Linked DNA regions of Homo sapiens: region 2 is linked to region 1. Evidence: fine-mapped expression QTL. Tissue or cell type: tibial artery. Region 1 holds a variant in brackets; the other region holds the start of a gene. All regions are shown on one strand. Distances are from middle to middle.

The links.
Region 2: MANEA-DT starts here. The variant in region 1 is fine-mapped to the expression of MANEA-DT in tibial artery (GTEx, PIP above 0.99). The same link has a PIP of 0.9 or more in atrial appendage and subcutaneous fat.

The regions. Positions count from the first base shown.
Region 1 is chr6:95,540,040-95,551,731 of GRCh38, forward strand. No RefSeq gene overlaps it. Among named protein-coding and RNA genes, the nearest start is that of MANEA-DT, 32 kb to the right of the region's middle. RefSeq lists a silencer at 4,641-4,841 and an enhancer at 8,981-9,597. The variant C/T (reference allele first, on the strand shown) is at 5,366.
Region 2 is chr6:95,570,354-95,582,045 of GRCh38, forward strand. MANEA-DT (MANEA divergent transcript) reads right to left here and starts at 7,098. Exons shown (of 3, transcript NR_104136.1): 1 at 6,740-7,098. MANEA (mannosidase endo-alpha) reads left to right here and starts at 7,182. Exons shown (of 5, transcript NM_024641.4): 1 at 7,182-7,285. RefSeq lists silencers at 6,922-7,001, 7,052-7,141, 7,422-7,481 and enhancers at 7,278-8,218, 7,682-7,781.

The sequences.
Region 1 (11,692 bases):
TGGGGAGAAATAAATACCAAAGAACCACAGCTACAGTTCCAGGTTCAAGGTGGCAAGCCGACTCCTAAGACAGAGATCAGCTTTAATCTATTGCTACATTTGTTTATTTTTTGACAGGATACAGGCAGAAACTATAGCAACTAGAGCATCTTCAACTTATCTTTTTCTTGCTCAGCAACTTCCAAGTACACAGGTTGTCTGCCTCACTACATGGATATTTAGTTTCCATGGATGAGAGTCAAGATGTGTGTAGATCACCTTGACAGGTAAAAGCAACAGGCTGTGCTTTCCAGTAATCCTTTGTGCTGTTCAAGTCTATAGGCCCAAACATGCATGCCCACTTGTAGCTCTCCTAACCCAGAGCTGACTTCATTCAACATACAGAAATACCATTTCTCATTTTTGTTGCTTCATTCCTCCCAAAACAAGAGTGCTATGGGAAACTGAGGTCACTCTCCGAGAAGTCCATATCAGACCAGGCTAATGTTAAATTCTTACTTACAGTTTCATCTCCATGACCTCAAGTCAATGTTTCACAAAACATACTCCTTAAATGTTCCTTGGTATTTTTTCTGATAGGCACATCTCTAATATTTTGTACACAGGAAAAAACAAACTACTACACTTGTGACCACCAAGTTTGTACTGTTAGTATAGTTATCTTCTTCCCAAAACATGTTCATCTTAACCGACATACTAGACAAGTCTTTTGATGCCTTATTAGTGAATTACAGTCTCCCTCTCACTCAATATCACATATATCTTTTAAAAGTTTTTAGGGACACTTAGACGTGTGTTTAGTTTCTCTAAGGACAATTAGTTTCTATGGGGTTATCATCAAGTGGGGATCTCAAATCAGTTTCTCAAAATATCTTTTGATCCTGAGGGGTCATGATCATTATACATTTTATTTCCTTTAATTTCCATATATGAGGCCATAAAATACTTTATTATACCAAATAGCAGTAGATGAGAGATTAAAGTAATGCTTAGCACACAAACTACTTGTTAACATTACAGCAGATAGCAGCAGATATTAAAGTAATACATAGCACACCAAACACTTATTTTTATTACAGTATAATTTCCTCATCCTTCCCAACAGAACTATCTCTTGCCCATATGCCATACATTTTCAATGACAGGAATAGTCACTAGAATATTCAGTAAATCCAGAATTCTTTCTGTCCTGGGGGCCTAATCATACCTCTGCTATGAAGAAGCAGGATTTTATTGACACTGGTTCCCACATATAAAAGTAGAGCACAACCAATTCACCCTATAGAGAGGACACAGTGTTGGTCTTTTGATGGCCACTAACTGCATCACAGGAAATGCTGGCTCTTTTTAAATTCATGGTGTATATATTGTAAGGGAACGATAACAGGATCACTTGTTCCAGTGACATCCTGCTATAGTTCAGGTGGTCCTTACCATTTTAATATTGCATCTGTCCGGCTTGGACTTCTAAAGCACTCAGGCATTTTCCTTTAAACACAATAGAAATAAAGTGTAGCAGAGAGCACTTCCTGGATGAGCATACAGGCCCTCTCCCATAGGTTTTGTACAGGATAATGTCCCAAATGACTTTTCTTCCCTCCAGATAAAAATAAAGCCTCACCAAATCCTTTTCCCACTCTTATAAATAGATGATAGGTTTGCAAAGGTAAAAGATAACAGGTCCTCCTCTACCACTAGGCAATAAAGCAGCACTTAGGGTCAGTCCTACCTTGGTCACACTGGGCAAAATAACTGTCTACATGTCCTTAGGAAAACATATACCCAAGTGCAAAGGAATAAAGTATCTTAAGTAGTATGCTCCCTTTCGTTGGAAGAAGGGCAAATGCAATGTTTGTCTAATGCACTTGATCTGATAACAGAAAAGGAAAGGTTTGTAAGGTATGAAAGACGAAGATTTATGTCACAGTATCATTTCCCAACCCTTTATTCCTGGTACACAAAAAGCTTTCTTAAGGCTGTTCCGCCCTCAATGTCTCCCATGTTTAGGTGAAGCACATACCCCCTTATAAGCTTCCCAGCCAGCCCTTCTTATCCTTCACTTCCTTAGCATCCTCTGTCTTTCAAAATGAATGTTTTAGTTGACTATTCCAATTTTTAATTAAGCCACTCCTATGTGGCTGGTAGGAGTATATGTCCATTACATATGGTTCTTTTTGTCTCATTTTGGAAACTTGGCCATGGTGAAATTCATTCCCTATGAAATATAGTGGGGGGACTCAAAACACTCATCTATCCCCAGAAAGACTCATTGGAATACTCCAGGAGTAATGAACTGGGTTCAGTATAATCCATCTGCCAGTGATGTGCTTGCCATTGACCTCAGGGAATTCTCTCCAGTGCCATTTTTGGACTTTTTTTTCTTCTTGATCGCATTCAGGACAGCCTGTCACAATAGTAATGGCTTTTCTGGGTAGCACTGGTCTATGCCATTGCTTCCAATTGTCGTGGCATGGCTTGAGCACCACTGTGACAGCTCATCTCATACACTCAACTGATTTTCTCCTTTGGGAGACCAGGGCATCTACTTTGGCTTTCTAGCGCTCCTCTGAGACACTACTGGCTGTTCTTTGTAGGCATCTAGAAATGTGCTTCTCCCCAGGAGTTTCCATAAAGACTTCCACAATTGCATCTCTTCACATGAAGATAATCTTGTGTATCTATGTATCAAGGAAGCATTTGCCTGTCTGACACTGCAACACAGTCCTAGGGAAAGCCCAGGAGGCTTTAATATTTAGACACAAGCCTGAGGCCAAGAACCAAGTTCTTCCTGAACCATTAACATATAACATATACTGACCTCTATTCAGGCCACTGTGTATGCTTATCATTGTGTCTTCAGCTCAGATTTTTACAGTACATTGGAGGTTAGCTGTAGCCTTCCATATAGAGTCCCATCATTCAGTGCAAGGACTCTCATTAGCAAATAAGTCAGATATTTTGTCTCAGCAGGGTTCAGAACCTTTGGCAATAAGAGTGGGTAGCTCCTCCAGAGTGCCACTGTAGAGGCAGAGATGTTACCTGCTCATGGATAGAGTGCATTTCCTCAGAGTCTATCTTTTTTAGCATGTTCCCAAATATATTTTATCAGTCCGTTCTCACACTGCTAATAAAGACACACCCAAGACTGGATAATTTATAAAGAAAAGAGGTTTAATTTTTCAGCATGGCTGACAAGGCATCAGGAAACTTAAAATCATGGTGGCAGGAAGGAGAAGAATGAGAGCCAAGTGAAGAGGGAAGTCCCTTATAAAACCACCAGATCTATAAGAACTTACTATCATGAGAATAGCATAGGGAAACTGCTATCATGATTCAGTTATCTCCCACTGGGTCCCTCCCACGACATGTAGAAATTATGAGAAAGTATGTGGAAGTTATGGGAGCCACAATTCAAGATGGGATTTGTGTGGGGATACAGCCAAACTGTATCATATATCATTCATATTTTACCAGGGAACTTGTTGTACAACTCCCTTTCTATTGGAATCTCTTTTTATATCACCCATGAGACTGTAGATAACTCAAGCCTCAAGTCACCATAGGTAATGCAATGTAATCTGATGCTCTTTGGGTATGAGGGCTGTTTCTTACTAGAGCCAAAAAGCATGCTAATGCCTGTATCTCAAATAGGCTGTTCTCAGACACAATATCATGAATTTTTTTTAGTCCAGAACTCCTGCAACCACCTATAAGTAGCATTCTAAGGCTTTGGCTAGGGACTCCAGTCTATGTGTATTTTAGTAGTGGACTTCTCTAAAACTGCTGGTTGTATCAGGATTATAAAATCCCAAAAAGACAGCTTGGCCTACCCTCTGCTCTGGATATCATTCAAATCCATTGCTTTTTCTAGTCACTTTGTATATCGGGGCCAACAGGATTTCCAAATATGGCATATGTGTCCTAGAATCCAAACAACTCTTTGAGAGTTTGTGCCTCTCTTGCTAGTAAAAATGGGTCAGGACAATTTGTTCTTTACTGTGTGTGAAGTGCCTCTAGTGGCCAGAGTATTCCTAGAGAAAAGACTGACCAATCTGGGTCCTGAATCTTAATCAGATTTTTTAGACATCCTTATCTAGTCCTATTGCAGCTATTGTTTGTAAATCCTCCTTGCCTCCATTCTCAGCTTACTTTCTGAGAGGGGAGGTATCATCGTATCATCAGCTTCATGAATCAATGGGCTTTCAGAAATGAAGAGACTCAAATCTTGTCTTATAGGGCAGTAGCTAAATCCTGGAGAATGTGCATAACCTTAGAGGAAGATAGTAAAGTATATGTAATGAAATATCTCTCATGCAGATAAAAATGATGCTTGGCATTTTTTCCAGATTCTATTATCAAAGCACATTCCCTGCCGAACCTCCTGGTAGTTTTTAATCATGTCTGGCATAACAGAGACTTTGGGGAAAATTGTTTCACTTAATTCTGCATTTTCTCACAGGACAGACAGGACTAACGTGAAGAGAATTGATGGGGATGAGCACAACTGTTTCCACGACCTCTTTAATCATGACTGAGATTTCCTGCTACTTTCCTGGAAAATGATGCAGTTTAGTATTTACTACAGAAAAGGGCAATTGTAAAGCCTCCCACTTAACAGATCTGATAAAAACCTGGCAAAGGGCAAATCCCTAGCATTCAGCTATAGACCACTAAGAAGGGCAAGACCTTCTGCTTTTGCTTCATAACCTTTCCAGTTATTCATTCAAGCAGAGAATAGCAGCACTATTCTTATCTATTTCCACTATTTCCTTATCATGTTCCTCTCTGGTGCTCTACTAGGGCCTTGGAGTCTTCCCTCACAGTATCTCCTTCCCACCCCAGCCCTTAGCTTCCTCTTTGGCTTCTTAACATTGTGTTTTTGCTCCCTACATGTATTATAGTACTTTATGTACCGATATTCAATTGTCTCAAAATGTTTTGTTCACCAACCCTAGGATATTCGACTTTAACCAAAGCACATGGTCTTTGAACTGATCTGTGGGATAGGACAAAATATCCTAGCCTTCAAGTTAATCTTTATTGGTTTCTACTGTTTCTACCAATGGTGTTTATTTAGCACACTTTTTATTCAGCACTTTTCTTAGCACAAAGTTTATTCACAACTTTTGTTCTTACAGCATCATTGGATTTTTTAGTAGTGGACTTCTCTAAAACTACTGGTAATGTCAGGTTTATAAAACATAATACCAAAGGGACAGCTTGACTTGCCTTCTTCTCTGGATCTCATTCAAATCCATTTCTTTTTCTAGTCTCTTTGTATACTGGGGCCAACGTATGTGTCCTCCAGAATCCAAACAGCCCTTTGAGCCTTTGTGCCTCTTTTACTAGTAAAAACGAGTCAGGA[C/T]AATTTGTTCTTTACTGTTTGTGAAATGCTTCTAGTGGCCCTAGGCCAGATTATTCCCAGAGAAAGGACTGACTAATCTGGGTTAAACTCACACAGATTGGCTTAAAGGGATCATATCTCATGGGATTCATTAAGGAAGGCAGCTGGCAGATACGGAGCAAATGTTCCTTTTCCCAACTGGTGATAATGAGCCAGTAAATCTTTTCAGATAATTCAATAAATTTCTTATCTTTTCATCTTGTGTCTTAACAATAAATTTCTTATCTTTTCATCCTGTGTCTTAACAGCCACCTAATGACAGCTGTATCTGATTCACCCTTTTCTTATATCTTTAACTGCCCCCTCCCCTTGCCTTTCTTTGACTATCCATTTTAACGGTTTCCTAGGAGATAAATCTAGGTAACTCAGCCATCCAGGCATGAAATGTTCATCAAAATCTGCTCCCCAACCCTATCCTGTCCTATTTCCTGCATCACAATGATTTGACTCAAGGGCCTGAAAGCCAAGGCTACTTCTGACACCATTGTCTAGCACAGCATTTGTCTTCGGCTAGCAAGCTGAGTCAGGAGACACAGGCAAGCTTTAATATAATACTGTTTACTTAGCATTATAGAAGGAAATAGGCAATACATGAAACAGGTGTACCATCTTCATCTCATCATCACCTCATCTCAGCAGCTACCCAAGTACAAAAAAGTAGTAAAAAAAAAAAAAAAGATTTCCTTTACATCCTCACACACATATGTATGCATGGCTGCCACAAATGATTGCCAAGATGTGTGTGCAACCTTGAAACATGGAAGCTACAGCCTCTATTTCCCACCAACTTTTTATACCATAGTTATCCCACAGGCTCAAAGCCCATGTGCATGAAAACTCACAGCCCCTCTAACCTGAGGCAGATGTTGTGTTCCGCAAAACAAATGAGCCAGTCAAAACATTCCTCATTTGTCTTAAAACTACTGTTTCCATGGAAACAGTCCTATGAGAATCTAAGATCTTTCTGAAGCAGTCTTGATATGCAGGCTTAATAGTAACTCTTCATTCACAAAAGCTTTATACATACATATGTATGTATGTATGTATCTATATATGTGGTTAAAGGTGATGTGTTAATCACCTTTTTAAAATATCTGTATTTATATATTGTTTTCATTTACCACTATCCTTTTGTCTAACCATTTCTAATTTATGAAACACAACACAAACAGAAAGGTGCACAAAATATTAAATACAGTAAAATATAGTATGTATATATAAATCATCATGCATCCATCCCCCAGATTGAGAAACTGAACACTGTCATCACCTCCAAAGCCTCCAGGCTGTTACTTCCCAAACTAAGACTCCTCAATATTCCTTAGTCTTGTGCCTGTCTTTAACTTTTATAATAATCACAACTACATATTGTTTCAGTTTTATCACTAAGTACACATTGCTAAACAATACAGTTGGGTCTTTCCTATTTCAAATTTTTTATAAATACTACCTACTGATTTGTGTGTTTTTGATTTTTTTTTTTGCTCAACATTCTCTAAGATTGTGCAGTGGCCATTTGCTTTTCATTACTATGCAGTATTCTATTATATAAAAATGTCACAATTTATTTAATTCAGTCTCTTATTAATGGTTATTTGTTTTATTTCAAGTTAGGGTAACACAAAGAGTGCTCCTTATAATATTCTTTGCATTTCTTTAATGCAAGCATTATCACTTTTGTTTTGTTTTGTTTTTGTTTGTTTGTTTTAAACAAATAGAGTAATGGATAAAGAGAGAAAATGTCATTTACTTAATATCATGATGCTGGTAGAATTGGACTTTAAACCTAATTCTGAAGTCTCTGTGACTCCAGAGTCCATGTTCTCAATTTCTTCAATAGTTCTTGTAATAAGAAGCACGTTTTAATGAAAATAGTGACAATTGAGATGAAGACAATTGACAAATTCAACCAGTTCTAAGAATACAGATTCAATATGATTTTGTGATTGAGGCAGTTGCTGAAGGAGATGGAAAAATCAATAGTAACATTGATTAAGCACCTGGCTTGAGTAAGTGATTGGTGGTGTCATTTAGTGAAATACTAAATACAGAAAAATGACCAGGGTTGGCAGATCAGGAATTTAGATGGACTTGAACACACTGCATTTCGTACCTGCAAGACACCACTTGACTAATAGTAATAGCTAGCATTATTGAAAACTAGCAATATGCCAGGAATTGTTCTGAAGTATTTACATGCATTAATTTGATTCTCACAACAAACCTATGAGGCAGATCCTATTATTGTGTCCATTTTATAGATGAGGAAAGAAAACTGAGGGAAACAAAAGCTTAGTAGAACCTCAATGTTACAAAGCTAGTAAATGAGATGTTTACTTAAGCAGCCACTTCTAAAATTCATATTCTTAAGCATAAAATATGTAAAGTCTTTTGATAAAATGTCATGGGCAATAGGGAGTGAGCTATACAGAGGCTGAAGCTTAGGTAAGAGATCTGGGCTGGAATATAAATCTGAAAGTATTTACATGTCATTGAATATATGTAATTATTAATGTAATATATGTAATCAATTACATCATTAATTATGAGCCATAGGTGATTTTGCCCCCTAGGAGACATTTGGCAGTGTTTGAAGACATTTTGTTTGTCATAACTGGGGTGGGTGCTAATAGTATCTAGTCTGGGGGGTGGGGCAGGGAATTTGCTAAACATCCTACAATGCACATGATTGGCCCTCACCACAAGAAATTATCCTGTTCAAAATGTTAAATTGAGAAACCCTGTCCTACACAGATTAATCATTGGATGGAGGCCCACCTAGGAAGGAAGAGTGATGCGGACTAGGAAACTCTTCAGCTGAGACTTGTCTACTGACAGCACTTACAGCAGCTCTGGTAATAAGTTCTTTATTCCTAACTAGGAATGTATCAGTGTGTCACAGCATCTGTCATGATTATGGAAGGGAGATAAAGAAACACAGCCAGATGGGTCCCTGACGCAGGGGGAACCCTGCTTTCAACCACCTGCTGGGTTCAACAGTGTATGAAGTCATGCCTTTCCATTTCCTGCAATTCTGATGCTTTGACATCTCAGGGTTTTGCTGATCCTGGAAAGCCTACCCCTTCCAGGACTAGCCATCTCCTGGCTCCTATGTAGCCATATCCTACATAGTAAATGACTGGCCCAGGACTGTGAGATTCATATGCAAACCAACAATGCAGAGCTTTCACACCCCACAACCTCCTCTAGGAGGCTGTCACACTCAGGGCCACTATGCGCTGCCCTAATCACTCCAGAGTCAAATACTAGACAACTAGGGACAGTTCCTATACCCCAGAGTCTGCTGGGATTATTTAAACAAGCCAATTCTAAACCTGTTTACCTTGCTGCAGAAACCAAAATAAAGGCTCTTGCTCACGCTCTCCATCACCCCTCAAATCCTTCTGCCTCCTGACTGAATCTGGTGCTTCCCAGCATGGCCTTGTGTGGCATGGCATACCCCTTCCTCTTGGGAACAAACTGTCTATACAATGGCCAGTGTCTCCTGATTTTTGGCGTCACAATACCTGAATAATAATGAAACCTACATTTTAAACTGACTAGGTTGTTTGAATGATTAATTTATTTCTGTTGGGGTTTTATTTGTACGTATGTCTTTTATTTCTTCTTTTTGTATTGAAAGCATTTAAAAACTCTCTGCACGAGATTTGGTGGTCGAGTGGGTGCTATATTTACTATATTAATGCAAATTTTCATTTTTTAAAAATCTGTTTAATCTCCATGATAAAAAGTATATCCACACATGGTATTTGTTATAAACATTATAGATGCACTGTCATTGTCTTATTCACTATCTACCTATTGCTAATACATTCCACCTCTCTGATTTTGAGTCAGATAGTTTATGCGCATAAAGCTTCTACCAAATATTTAATGAAGTATTGTCATTTGTATTGCTTTGTAAAGAATCTGTAATCCCCTTTGATCTGTGTTAATGAGTCATGCATTGTTTATTTCCAAATAATTACTTTTTAACTTTAGCTATTAATGGCTATTTTGTATTGTGATCTAATAACATGGCGTGTACAACTTCAGCTTTTCTTTTTGTAACTGATTTAACATTTTTCTGGCCTATTAGATGACCAGTTTTTACAAAAGATCCATTGGCTTTTAAAATAAAGTGTATATTCTGTTTATTTGGAATATACTTGATCTCTTTATTTTAAAAATCTATAAATTAGAATAGTATATAGCCTTTACTTTTTTACTTTTTTCTTACATGAGTATTCAAAACCTGGGAGATGTTTCTTCAAAGCTAAATTTTTTTCTTTTCTAACTTCATTTTGTAAAATTGTATAGCACAGCTTTTACTTTAAGTATTTTGTAGCTATGTTATTTTTCATATAAAGGTTTATGATTCTAATATCTTCATTGTGGATATATCATTTTTAAACATAAAACTGAAGTCTTTTATAATTTATGATGACTTCTTTGCCTCAAAATCTGATACAGCTGATTTTAATGTTATGATCTTTCTTTTGTTTGCCTTTAGATGATGTATCTATGCCAGTCTCTTTTTCTATTTTTCTTTTCTTCCTTTTTTTTACCTCTCTAGGTCATATTCCCTTAGGTACGTCCCTTGGAAACCACATATAATTGGACTGATCTTTAATAGAACAGTTTAACCCATTCAAATTCAAAACTTTTAAGTTGTTATATCTGAAAACTTTGTTCATTTGCCCTTTCAATTTTAACTTAAAAAACGCTTCTTTACTGTCTTTTTCTTATCTGGATCCTTATGGAATACAATGTTCTCACCTTTATTGCTAACGCTTCATATAATATATATCTTATTTTAAAATTTTACAGATACATAAAAGTTAAAAATAAATTCCAATGATCAATTTCGCAAACCAAATAATGCTTTGATACCACCTGATAGAATTCTGAATATTAGTATTATTTTACTTTGCTTCCTTTAGCTCTCATTCACCTCTCAGTTGGGTGAAACGAGGTTTTTATAATCAGAAATTTGAGATGTAGATTATTATGGTCATTTTCACATGTTATATATTCTATCTTATGAATTTCCTTTGTATTTTGTTTCAAAACCTATTTAGAATATTTAGTTCAATTTATTTGATTTCACCATTTATAATGTCTAACACTGAGCATTCTTTAGTCTTTTATGTGAATTAATCTCTTAGCTGTATATATGTACATCTTTCAGTAATTTTTTCCTCATGGAGAGAGTTCTTGTTATTATATCTGTCACTTCAATTTTTACCTTCCTCCTTTCAATTAACATCCTTCTTTTGTCAATCTGTTGATATTTCATCTTGTATTTTCTTTTTGTACCAGAGACCATATTTTAAAAATTGTACTAACGACACAAGCAGATGCTTTAAAAAATGTGCTTTAAATTTCTGATAATAAACCTTTTCCAAGGTATGTCCTTGCAGCTTAAATGCTGCTATATTTCTTTTATGTAGCATTTGCCAATATACTCACATATCTTTTATATCTGCTTATCCTGATGAGGAAAATATATATCCAAACAAGATATTTTTCCATAAACATTGTGGGTGAAATTATAGACCATCTGACTCTATTACAACCTCCCCTCACATGGATTTTGAGCCAGAGAGTTTATGGACCTGCAGAGTCTCTATCAAAATTTCTTATGTCCAGAAGACATTTATCTTTTTTGGCTGTCTGGTAGTCTTTTGAAAAGGATAATTCATAGTTCGATGATTGGAAATATTCTCTGGCTCTTCAGATACGCTGAGAGGGAAATGGGAGCAATCAGAATACAGGGCTTTGCAGCTCTTTCAACCACAGTACCTTCTACTGCTGCTGCCACATGCCTCAGCAGAGAGCACCAGTTGCCTTCCATGTCTGTCATTGGCAGGAATAAAACAATGATCATTTTATTTCTTAAATGAACAGAAAGAGCCACAGATGGGACAAACTGGATGATATGGTGGTCTTAAACGTTTTAGAAAACAGCTCCTTCCACAATATTAGAGGATTAAAAGGTTAGTGTTGTGGTTAGTACAGACATTGGGCATTGAGGCAAGAAACTGTCTGTGGCAGAACAATGCAGACTAATGATCTGTAGGTTTACTCTTTTAATATTCCTCAAGAGACATAATAAGTGTCAGTATCACCCATTAATTGAAGTTTTTTCTTTCAGTATTTTTCACTTGTAGGTGTCTGTCTATCCTCTGCTCCCTGTTCTCTAACAGCTGGGGTTTCCTAACCCCCATCCAGAGCCCTGTAGGTTCTAGGGCAAGATTTACCTAGATAGTTTTCTCTAGTCCAACC
Region 2 (11,692 bases), 30 kb after region 1:
ACATATAGATTATATGAATACATATATTTATATAAAAATAATTTATATTATATACATATTTATATATATAAATATTTGCTGTAAAATTATAAATGGTAACTTGATAAGCTTTGCTTTTATTGTTGCATATTTTTATTTTAACAGATGAGTAGACATCACACTCAGGGAATTTATTTTGAAAGAAGAACAACAAAATGTTACCACCAAATTATCATACATATGTATAAACACACACACACACACACACTCCCACACACATACTCTTACACTGTGTTTCCTTCATTCCTTATTCAGTCAATAAAGCATGAATTTCTGGCCACTAGATACATTCAACTAAATATTTCTGAAGTCTTGCTATGTGGAAAGCATTGTGATAGATGCTGTAAATAGATGAATGCAGAAAAGACTGCCTTGCAGGGGCACAAACTCTTTTGAGATATAGACATATACAAAAATAATTAAAGTAATCCAAACAGTGGTAAGCAGATAATCAATATAAACCACACACTGTATATCTCTGTGTTTCTTGGTAGACGGCAAACTCCTAGGAGGTAGAGATTTGTGATGAATATATGTTTTCTGAAAGTAGGCACCCCTCAACATTGTGAATAAAAGCATAATCAAATAAAACCAATTATTATGAAGCTAACATATTTGCCCATCTCAACAAACCAAAACAAAAACAGCCAGAATAAAAATTGGTAAATAACAACTCAGTTTATATTAATGCAATTAGCTTTTACTTTGCAGATACATTTAAAGAATGATGTTTCTCTCACATTCAAAGAAACAATCTGGGCATCTTATAATTAATGTAATATTTATTGAATCCCTACTGTTCATTGATTTATTTATTCAACACATATTTGTTGAAAACTGTATTAGTTTCCTGTGGCTGCTAGAACAAATTACCAGAAACTTGGTAGCTTAAAAAGCATACATTTATTCTCCTGCAGTTCAGGAGGTCAGAAGTCTGAAGTCAGTTTCACTGGGCTGAAATTGAGGTATTATTATGGTCACTCTCCCTTCTGAAGGTTTTTCTTGCCTTTTCTGGCTTTTAGAGCTTGAATGAAATGCTTGCGTTCCTTTACTTTTGGTCCCTAGTCTGATCTTCAAAGCCAGCAGCCTAGCATTTTGTTTCAGTAGTCCCATTGCCGCCTTCTTTGTCAAATCTCCCTTTGCCTCCCTGTTATAAAGACATGTGTGACTATATTTAGGGTCCATCAAGACAACTCTCATCTCAAGATCCTTCCTCACACCTGCAAAGTCCCTTTTGCCATTTGAATTATTACTCACTGGTTCAGAGGATTAGGACCTCTGTATCTTTGGGAATTATTATCATCCTACTACAAGCACCTACTATGTGTTGGGAGTTGGAGCCCCAGCTCTGAATTAGACTATCTCTGGAACTGCCTTCATGGAACCTGGCATTACAGGGTGTATAAAAGACGTACACAACACAGGCCTGCTATTTAATTGGGTTCTCTAACAGAAAAATGTTTATCAGCGAGTAAGTGCATGTTTTTTTCTTTTTCTCTTTTAACAAGAGAAATTGCCAGCTACTTCTTAGAATACGCAGGCACAGAAAATCACCTTGTAGCTGATACTGTTGAGAATAATTACTGTGGTCTCTCTTATATAAATAGAAGACAAGTGAGCCCATCATTTTGAGAAATAACAAGGCATTTTTTTTTTCTTTTACTGACTTTTGCAAACTGCTTCTTTTTGCATGGCAGGAGAAGGTGGTACTATGGCAGGAGAAAGATTAGGTTGGTTTGGTTAAAGAATCCATAGCATCCCACGAAGGAAGAAACTCAAACCTAATACCTTAGGAAATTCTCTGTGAAACCTGGAGTTTCAGTGATGCAACATTTGGGGAGTGGCTGATTGTAGTATGACACTAATGCTCAATCATAAAACATAGGACTTCCTTCCTTCAACACACTGAGAGGCCCTATATCAACTGGTGGAGTCATTTCCGAACTCAGGAAGTGCTACATCTCCCTGCTGGCTCTGGTTTCCACTAAAGACATGCATCTCCCTTAGCTGCCACCATGCCTGTTTGCAGAATAGGGTTTCCTTCAGGATAGGGTTTCCTTAAGGAGAAATGTTCCATATATAGTCAATCAATGCATTAGCATTTAACAGCACCATTCAACCAGAGGTGAACTTTCTGCCTTCTTTATTTGGGAAGGCAGAACGCTCTCCCATCTCTGTCACTCAGGAGGGCCATCACCTGGGCAAGTACTTGGATCAGAGAATGAGAAAAACTTTCACCAAAGGGGCTTGGCCTGTTTAGTTAGAAGTTACCTACACTGAGTTTAATTCTGGGTTATGTACATCAATTCTTAGAAGAGCCTTATCTAATGCATCAAGAAGTCACCCTAAAACCTGTGACCACTACGAGGCCAGTGAATTTTAATCATGACCTACCAAGGCAAGTTTTTTCCTTGGTCTGATAATAGTTCGTGAATTTATGTGGGATAGAGTTAGAATGGATTCCTTGCTGTCAGGATGCTGGTAGGTACAGTGAAAGGATCAGAGCATTAGGGGAAACAATGAGTTTGGCTCTCTGAATTATCTACTGCTATAAATTGGTGGAAACTTTAGTGTTTTACTCATGGCACTATTGGAGTTACATTCTTTGCATCCCAAACTGTGTCAAGGAATACCTTAGTTACACCTTCACAGATACCAGATATGATAAAAAGAACAGAACAATTTAGTTAATTAAGAAATTATTGCTGTTTCATATTACTCCCTATAAATGTATAGGGATTAAAAGAATAAAACAGTAAGTATAAAATAGTAAGGGAGAAAGTAGACTTTATATGGACAGTGAAGCATACTGTGATGGATAATTGGACTATTGTTTGGGGATTTAGTTTATTTTATTTTGTTACTACTTAGAATCTAAAAATCCTTCAGGTTTTGGAAGAATAATGTATTCTGTGTTTTGTGCCCAATTTCCCATTAAAGCCAAAAGTTCTGGGCTCTACTTCAAGGAGGCTAAGGAGGAAAAGACATACAGCCTAGAGTAAGCTAATCAAATGATCTCAATCCAAAATTTGAATCTTGAAGCAACGAGGTAGACAACACAGAGTTGAGAAGTCACTCATAGTGGTGTCAGCAGCTTTGAGATCAGTGCAGCCCTGAAAGCAGCAGTGCCCTAATCTGTACTGTTATATGAGGCTGTGTTCCCAATTTCCTAGCCCCTCTTGTTTCCTATCCATTGCCATTACCTAATGTACTAGCCTTCATCTTCATGCTAAATTCTGTAACTTTTTACATAGTCTATTTGTTTTCAGGTTTGCCAGATTCAATTTCTATTGCTTACAAAATATATCTCTGATTAATGTAAGTGGAGAGGATATGGACAGAAATTGATTTCTCATCTTCAGTGACAGGAGTAATGAGCAAAGGTATAAATGGCATATGGCTAGGAAATACTAATGAAACTTCTAGGACAGGGAAAAATAGACATGAAATAATCAGGAGACAAACAATAGGGCCCATTGAAATAGAGGCAAGAAAAAGATGGTTGAAGGTGTAACTGCTTAGGTCTGGGAAATACAAAGAAGACTCTTCAATGCTGATGCCAAAAGATAAGATAAATGGCTGCCGCTTTTCTAGTAGCAAGATAGGATTAACCTGAAGGATCTTGTGGGGTGGGGACTATGATTTTAATAAATGCTAATTAGGATAAACCAAAGGCTACTATTAGTTTATTGTGTTAGAATCTTTCCATACAAGAATTTGACAAAAAAGAAAAAAAAATGGGGGATTTTTTTTTTCTCCATTCTTCCTTCTTTGGATCATTTTTGTCTTTGGACTCTCAGTGACTGATTACCCCTGATGCAACACATTTAAAATGTCTATTTACTACACAAATGAATTTATATGCAGCTCTTTTTCTTTCCAAGAAACCATCTATTAGATAAATGGCATATTCTTCTGGTGCTGTATTTTTAATTAAAAAATACATAAATATGGGCTCACATTAAAAAAGAAAACAGCACTACAGAGAGTAAAAAAGAAAATTCTCCTTCATTCCCCTTCTGTTACATCCCTATAGGTAACAATGCATATATCCTTTCAGATATTTTTATATATCATACATGCACATATATATTTAAAATTTATATTAATATAATGTGAATTTCTCTTGTAAGTATTAACATACTAATCACTTGCTCATTTATCTTGGAGACCTTTCCCATCAGTGCTTATTAATTTACTAAATTCTACATTGTTTACATTCAGGAAATTATTGAACTAATTAAATCTATATGTATATATGAGAGATAAAAAAATTGGATGTGGCAGTTATTATGGCCATCCCATATTTGAAAACAAAATCAAGATTCAGAATGTAATAACATTCTATATGTGATAATTACAACAAAACATTGCTGACTTTCCAGTGATGTCAAGTAAAAAAAAAAAATTCTACATAAAAACACTGTGAAAAAAAGTGATGTGAAAGAAAAAAAGAATATTAACAACATTATTTCTATCATTGCCATCTCAACATTCCCTGACAATAGCAGGGGATAGGTAGAGCAGTCAGAGTTACAAGATGAGGCACTAGCAGCAATTCTAATCCAGTTTATAAACACCATTGTGCAATGAATAGAGTGTGATGCAATGAGAATCTACTTGCCTAATTTATTTACACTGGCAGTCATAAAGTACCCAGTTTTTAAGCAAGTGAGCATGCATTAACATATTTATAAAATAAAATCCTCTCCCTCTCATTTGACATCAGAAAATGTATTAATCATTCCCATAAATATATTAGAATAGGAAACAATGATTATCTCAATAGGTGCAGAAAAAGCATTTAATCAATTAAACTGTCACTCATGGTTAAAAAAAAGCAAACAACAATACATTATGAACTGGAAACAGAACACTTAATAATCTTGATAAAGTATTTACCAAAAACCCACAGCAAACATTGTTATCATTATAAAATGTTAGCAGTATTGCAGTAAAGTGAGGAATGGGACAAGAATGCCATTATTACTTCCATTAAACATTGCACTGGATGCTCTGTTAATAAATAAAAGAAAAAACTGAATAATAAGTGGTTTGAAAAGAGAGAAAGAAGGAAACCATTATTCTTATTTACAAATGATATGATTACCTATATAGGTCATCCAAAGATGTAACAGGGAAATAAAGCAAGCAATCAAAAAAATTCAGCGAAGCTTCTGGAGATAGTACCAATATATTGAAATTGATGCTCTTTTAATACAATGTTACTAAACAATTAGAAAATAGAGTTTAAAGAGAGAGATCTCTAATTTTAGTAATAAAACTAGGAGGCAATATAATGAAAGATACTCAATAAATTACAAAGCATAGTAGCACATAAAGTACCTGAATAAAATAAATATACCATGTTCATAGATAAGAAGACATTTCACTAAATCTCTAAATGCAATTCTCAAGTTGAATAAAATGCCCAATTGAAATCCAATTTTTTAAATGGATCTTGGCTGGCTCATCCTAAAATTTCAATGAAAGAGTAAAGAGCCAAGTATAGTTAAGGCAATTTTAGACAAGAATCATTAGGAGGAGGGGTTTGCAAAATGTTTTAATACATAGAGTTGAGTGCATGGGTGTTCATTATATTATTATTTGTCCTTTCTGTGTTTAAAGTTGCTACAATTAAACTTTTAAACTTGTAGAAGAAAGAATAGTTTCTGATGTTATGTTGGGAAGAATCTTGTAAGCAAGAAAGCAAAAAGCACAAAATTAAAATGTAAAATATTATTAAATTCAAAAAGCTGTATACTGAAGCATAAAGCTTTTGGCAATCAAGAAACATCATAAAAACTGGAAAGACAGTCCATAAACTAAGAGAAGACATTTGCAACACATGTAACTTACAAGAGAGAATTAAACTAGAAAAAATAAATATTATCTACAAAATAATTTTCAAAAGCAAGCAATTTAATAAAAAATGAGATAAAATTAAGAACAGGCTTTAGCAAAAGGGAAAATGCAAATTAAAAGAGCAATCAGATGCTCTTATCAGCAAAAACTTAAAAAGTCTAACAATAGCATAAGGGTAACGATGTGCCAGTCTAGTTTATGGGAAATGGACTTGTATACAGACGAATCTCAAAACCTCTCAAAACCTAAATTAGTGAAAAAAGGGGAAAAATGAAGAATGATTCACATATGAAATATAAAACTAGGAAAATAGTATTTTTAGGGAATCGTACATATGTAACTATTTTCAGAAATACAACGGAATGAGTAATATAAAATTCAGCATAATGGTGAACGGAAGGAAGGAGATGTTTTTAGAGAGTCTTCTTTCTAGAAGACTCCAAAAATACTGGCATTTTTTTTTTCTTAAGCTCTGTAGTGGGTACCTGGGCATTTTTCATTCTTCTTTAAGATATGCACATGAGATATACTCATATGTATATTTCCCAATTAAAATTGGTGTACAAAATCTTTTTAAGGAGAGCCCTTATGAAACTGTTCACATCAGCAAGTTCTAGCTTGAATAAGGACTTCCTGTTACTATGTAACCAAACAAAAGATAGCATTTTCTTGTTTTCTGAAGCTAATGTAAGATGGAAACCTTCAGTTGTAATCCTATTTCAAAAGTTCTTGCTCTTCACATCTGACTTATCCTCAATTATTTCTAGTACTTCAGTACAGATGTGATTTTATAGAATACATTCGCAAATTAAAAACGCCATCTCCATCTGCCTACCTTGGGCTTCCAAGTAAAGTTCTATTTTTACAAAAATCAAAACAGTTCCTCAACTTTAAAAGTTTGAAAACCAGTGTACTTGTAAAGCACTTGATGCAAGCAACTTCTGAATGTTTCACATAAAAACAAACAAAAATGTGTCCTCTGTAATACAGTTAGAGCCTCCCAACAGAGCCTCAGAAGACCGTTTCTAAAGGCAGTGAGTTCTACTTGCAGAAATAGGGCGGGAGTGCAGTCTGACTCCAATCCACACGTCCTTCCCCTCTGACAGAACGCCCCAAAACGCAGTCCTCTCTTTCTTCCGCGCCGCTCCCGCCCTAGTCCTCTTAGACCCGCGACCGGAGGCTCCGGAAGACCCCGAGCCCCGCCCGCTCCGTGACCCCGCCCCCACCCGTCCCGCCCCTGAAAGCGCCCGGAACGCTGTGCGCGCGCCTTCGGGGAGGAGGGGCTGTCTGGGCTCGGGGCGCGGCGGCAGTCAGCTCTATGTTCGCGGTCTTAACCTCTCCTCTGGCCGAGTCCTTGCAAGAAGTGAATTACCCGACCCTGGTGAGTAGCTGCAGGAGTCAGACCTCTTGGAGGCGGCGGCGCCAGCAGCGGCGGCAGGCACGAGGTCCACCGCGGGCGCCTGCGCGCTCGCCCGCCAGCCAATCTGGTGGCCGCTTTCCTCCGGGCGCCCTTTGACCCGGCGCCCCTCTGGCAGGCGCTGGTGGCGCCCAGCGGCGAGCCTGTAGCCCCCTCGATTAACCTAGGCTGTCACTCTTAGGCCTGTTTTAGTCTGCGTTAGTTTTACTGCCTTTTACACTGCTTTATCCCCACCTCACTGGCCTCGTCGCCGCCTCCTCTTTGAAACGGTACCTCCTGTCGCCTCGGATTTTCCTTGTCTCCCCGACAAGGTGGAAATTTCGGGTCGGATGGAAGCCTTTTTCAGCACCTTCTCCTTGTGCCCCCAGACTGCCTCTGGGCCTTGAGCCGACCGGGAGAGTAGAAGGATCGAGGCCTGCTGGGCTCTGGGTGCAACGGAAAGGTAGCTGTCGCCTCTGGGCATCGGGAGGAGACCGCCCGATGGCGAGGCCGCTAGAGATGGTTTTTCAGTTCACCTGTTAACGTGTTTGGCACTGTCATCTTAGACTCTTAGCCTTTGCTAAGTCGGGATGCAACAGTGCTGGATTAGTGTTTTTGTTGTTCCTTTTTCCAAAGAAGCAACTTGAAGTACAGGCAGGTATAACTGTTTGGTTTTGTTGTTGTAAGACCCTACGGATAAGTGTTAGGAGAAAATGTGGAAGTGCTATAAAACAACAACAAGGGGGGGATAATGTTGATTAAGAACTTGAAAATAAGAAAAATGGGACTGGAATAGGCTGTTCACGTTAAAGTATTGAGGCAGTAGTTTGAAACAAAAATATAAAGTAAAACCTAGATATTGGTGATACTGTATCACGTTGTTTGCAAATCACTTTCATGACAATACATCTATTTCAGGTGTATCACACCTGAAAAAAACATGAGTGCTGTGAATTTGTGGATTTTCAGGCTCAATGCAGAAAAACACCCCCCAAAACAAAAAATCACAACAATGAAAACACCATTTCCAGAGCTGTTGCTGTTATTCGTGTGACGAATAGTGAATGTATGATCATAAAATAGAATAAGCTGTCTTTAGATGAAGTTTGGGCACAGTTTATGGAGTAGGTAACAGTTAATCATTGTTTATTAGGTACATAATCCTTAATTGAAAACATAACCATATAGCAGCAGCTTTCATCTTGTGTCACAAAAATAACTGGTGTATCCTCTAAATTTGATTTGTCTAATACCTTAAAGGAAGGCAGAATAGCATGGACAAGAACTTGAGTTCTTGAGCCAGACTCGATCTGCTCCTTGCTAGGTGATTAACCTTAGATTGGTTTCTTGGCCATTTGCTGGCCCAGAGATTTTTGAAAAAGTTACCAACTGCTCAGCTTCATCATTTGTAAAATGAGGTTAAAAAAAATTCTGCGGCCTGGCGCGGTGCCTCACGCCTGTAATCCCAGCACTTTGGGAGGCCGAAGTGGGTGGATCATGAGGTCAAGAGATCGAGACCATCCTGGCCAACCAACATGGTGAAACCCTGTCTCTACTAAAAATACAAAAATTAGCTGGGCGTCGTAGCGTGCGCCTGTAGTCCCAGCTACTCTGGAGGCTGAGGCAGGAGAATCGCTTGAACCCGGGAGGTGGAGGTTGTAGTGAGCCAAGATGGCGCCACTGCACTTCAGCATGGCAACAGAGTGAGACTCCATCTCAAAAACAAAACAAAACAAAACAAAAAACAGAAACTAAACCTCACTGAATTTCTGTTAACCAGAGGGTACAAGTGTTTACAATAAAACTGACCTGGGCAAGGATTGATTTTGAAACTGATTTTGAAAGTTCCAGATGTGTCTTCTAGTATTGAGTTATATTTATCTCCGGTGGCTTCATACAAAATAAAATTAGAAGAAAACAATATATTTTTTAAAAAAAGCACCAGAAGTCTGTGTGATTTAATTTAGTTAATTGAAAGGGAAGTCTTTTTGGCTTTTGTGAGTTACATGATAAAAGCAAATAATTTTTGAAGTACTAATTCATACCACCCTGCTTCTGAATCTCTTGGGGTCTCTTAGCTAGCTGGATATGTCCAATAATTTTTTATTAGACATCACTAAGCTTCAAGTCAGCATTTCAAAGGATTAAAAGCACAAAACTCAAAAAATAGAAGCTACAGGTTCAAAAGAACCTATTGTGTATGAGTAATGTAAACAGTCTTTTGAGGAGAAAACAGATTTTCAGTAGCCAATACTTTGAGTAGGTCCCTGCCTTGGAAAGATATATCTGCAATAAACTTGTAATATTTTCTCTATGGTGACTTATAATACTTTTCTTTTATTGAAGCTAAATTAGTTCCTCCACCCCTTTCCTGCAAGATCAGACATTTTAGGCATCTCAAGGGTCATTGTGGTTTTACAGCGTTGAAGATGATTTTTTTTATTAAATTGGATTTTTAAAATTATTGGATCTTTACGATTCTTTATAATATGTTCAGTATACACCGTAAACTTATCAAGTGTGTATACGGTCAGTAGTCTATATATACACACACACACAGATATACATATATATATATACACACACACTGCCTGAATACCAATGAAACAGCAAAGAGCCAGAAATTAACTTTTTTAAAGCTGAACACTTAATGAACACTATGTGAAAGATATGTTATGCTCTACTAGAATGTGAAGATAAAGACTCCATTTCTGAAACTTAAGGAGCAATCTAGTAGGTGATATAAAGATAAATGCACAGCATGATATAATACATAAGGAATGACAATTTGGCCGGGCACGGTGGCTCACACCTGTAATCCCAGCACTTTGGGAGGCAGAGGCGGGTGGATCACGAGGTCAGGAGATCGAGACCATCCTGGCTAACACGGTGAAACCCCATCTCTACTAAAAATACAAAAAATTAGCCAGGCGTGGTGGCAGGCACCTGTAGTCCCAGCTACTCGGGAGGCTGAAGCAGGAGAATGGCATGAACCCTGGAGGCGGAGCTTGCAGTGAGCGGAGATAGTGCCACTGCACTCCAGCCTGGGCAACAGAGTGAGACGCCGTCTCAAAAAAAAAAAAAAAAAAGAAATGACAATTTAAAAAGTAAATACTGTTAACAATAAAATATATGAGGAATAAGTACTTTTCACTGTGGAATTAGGAGAGGTATCAAGAAGAGGCAGCATTTCAACTTTGACTTGAAGGTGACTGGTATTTCAATAGTTGGTCATATAGAGAATAGGCATTTAGAATAAAATGTGTTATATTTTAATTGCTTGTCGGACACCCATCTTTAATCATCATCATAAACAATTGCTCATTTATTTAGTCTTATACTAAGCCACATGATTTTGAGAGTTTTACAATATTAACTAATTTCATCCTCACAAAAATCCTATGAGTGAAGTAATAACTCATTCTATGGGTGAGGAAAGGAACTCAGAAAGATCAGGTCAGTTTTGTAGGTCAGATAACTAAAAAATGGCACAGCTGGAATTTGAGCTCAAGCATTTGAACTACAGAGCTCATATTTTAAATCTCAATGCCCATCTGTGTTTATTTAGGTTGAGATGACTTAATTGAGACATGGAGGTTGAGCCAGAGCCAGCAGATCATCTCTTAAAATTGAGCTTGTGTGTCATCTATAATGATGTGATAAACACACATTTTAATTGAATGAATGAAGTAATGTAAAATGAGAAGACAGAGGATCAGCTTAAGAAATTACATTCATAGGCAAGAGAGAGAGAAAAAAAAACAGCTTCCATAAATGGACATTTTGTGCTTTGTATTCATGAGTGTATCCAGAAAATGAACCTAAGAAATTTTTTAGAGTTTCCAATATTTCTTCACTTTTCATTTATTTATAAATTCATTAGTATTTACTGTTTGATTAAAACATTACTGTTTCAAATTGTCTTGCATGATTCACAGAATAGTTTTATCAGTAGGCAAAACAGATACCCTCTTTTTTAAGAAAAGGCTAAGTGATTTACCCAGGATCACACAACTAAGTGTGACTGATTTGAATTTACATCTTAAGATTTATTATATATCTTGATCTTTCATGAATCTCGCCATTCAGCTGAAGTCAACGTTTCAAAAATGAATGCCTTACTAATTTATAAATCTGTTAGTTATTTCTCCTTTCTCTGTAACTCTTCCAACATTCATTACCATTGTTTTTTTCCTTATAGAATACCTATCCAAATGTTTTCCTTCTGAAGTATTATGTTCTACTTTTAGAAAACAGAGTAAGAAAATATCACTGTTGTCTCATCCAGACATAACTATTTTACATGTTTAAGTATATTTCCTTCTATGTGTATCTTTAATACAGATATGATATTATATATCATAGTAGTTGATATATTACATCCAAAATATT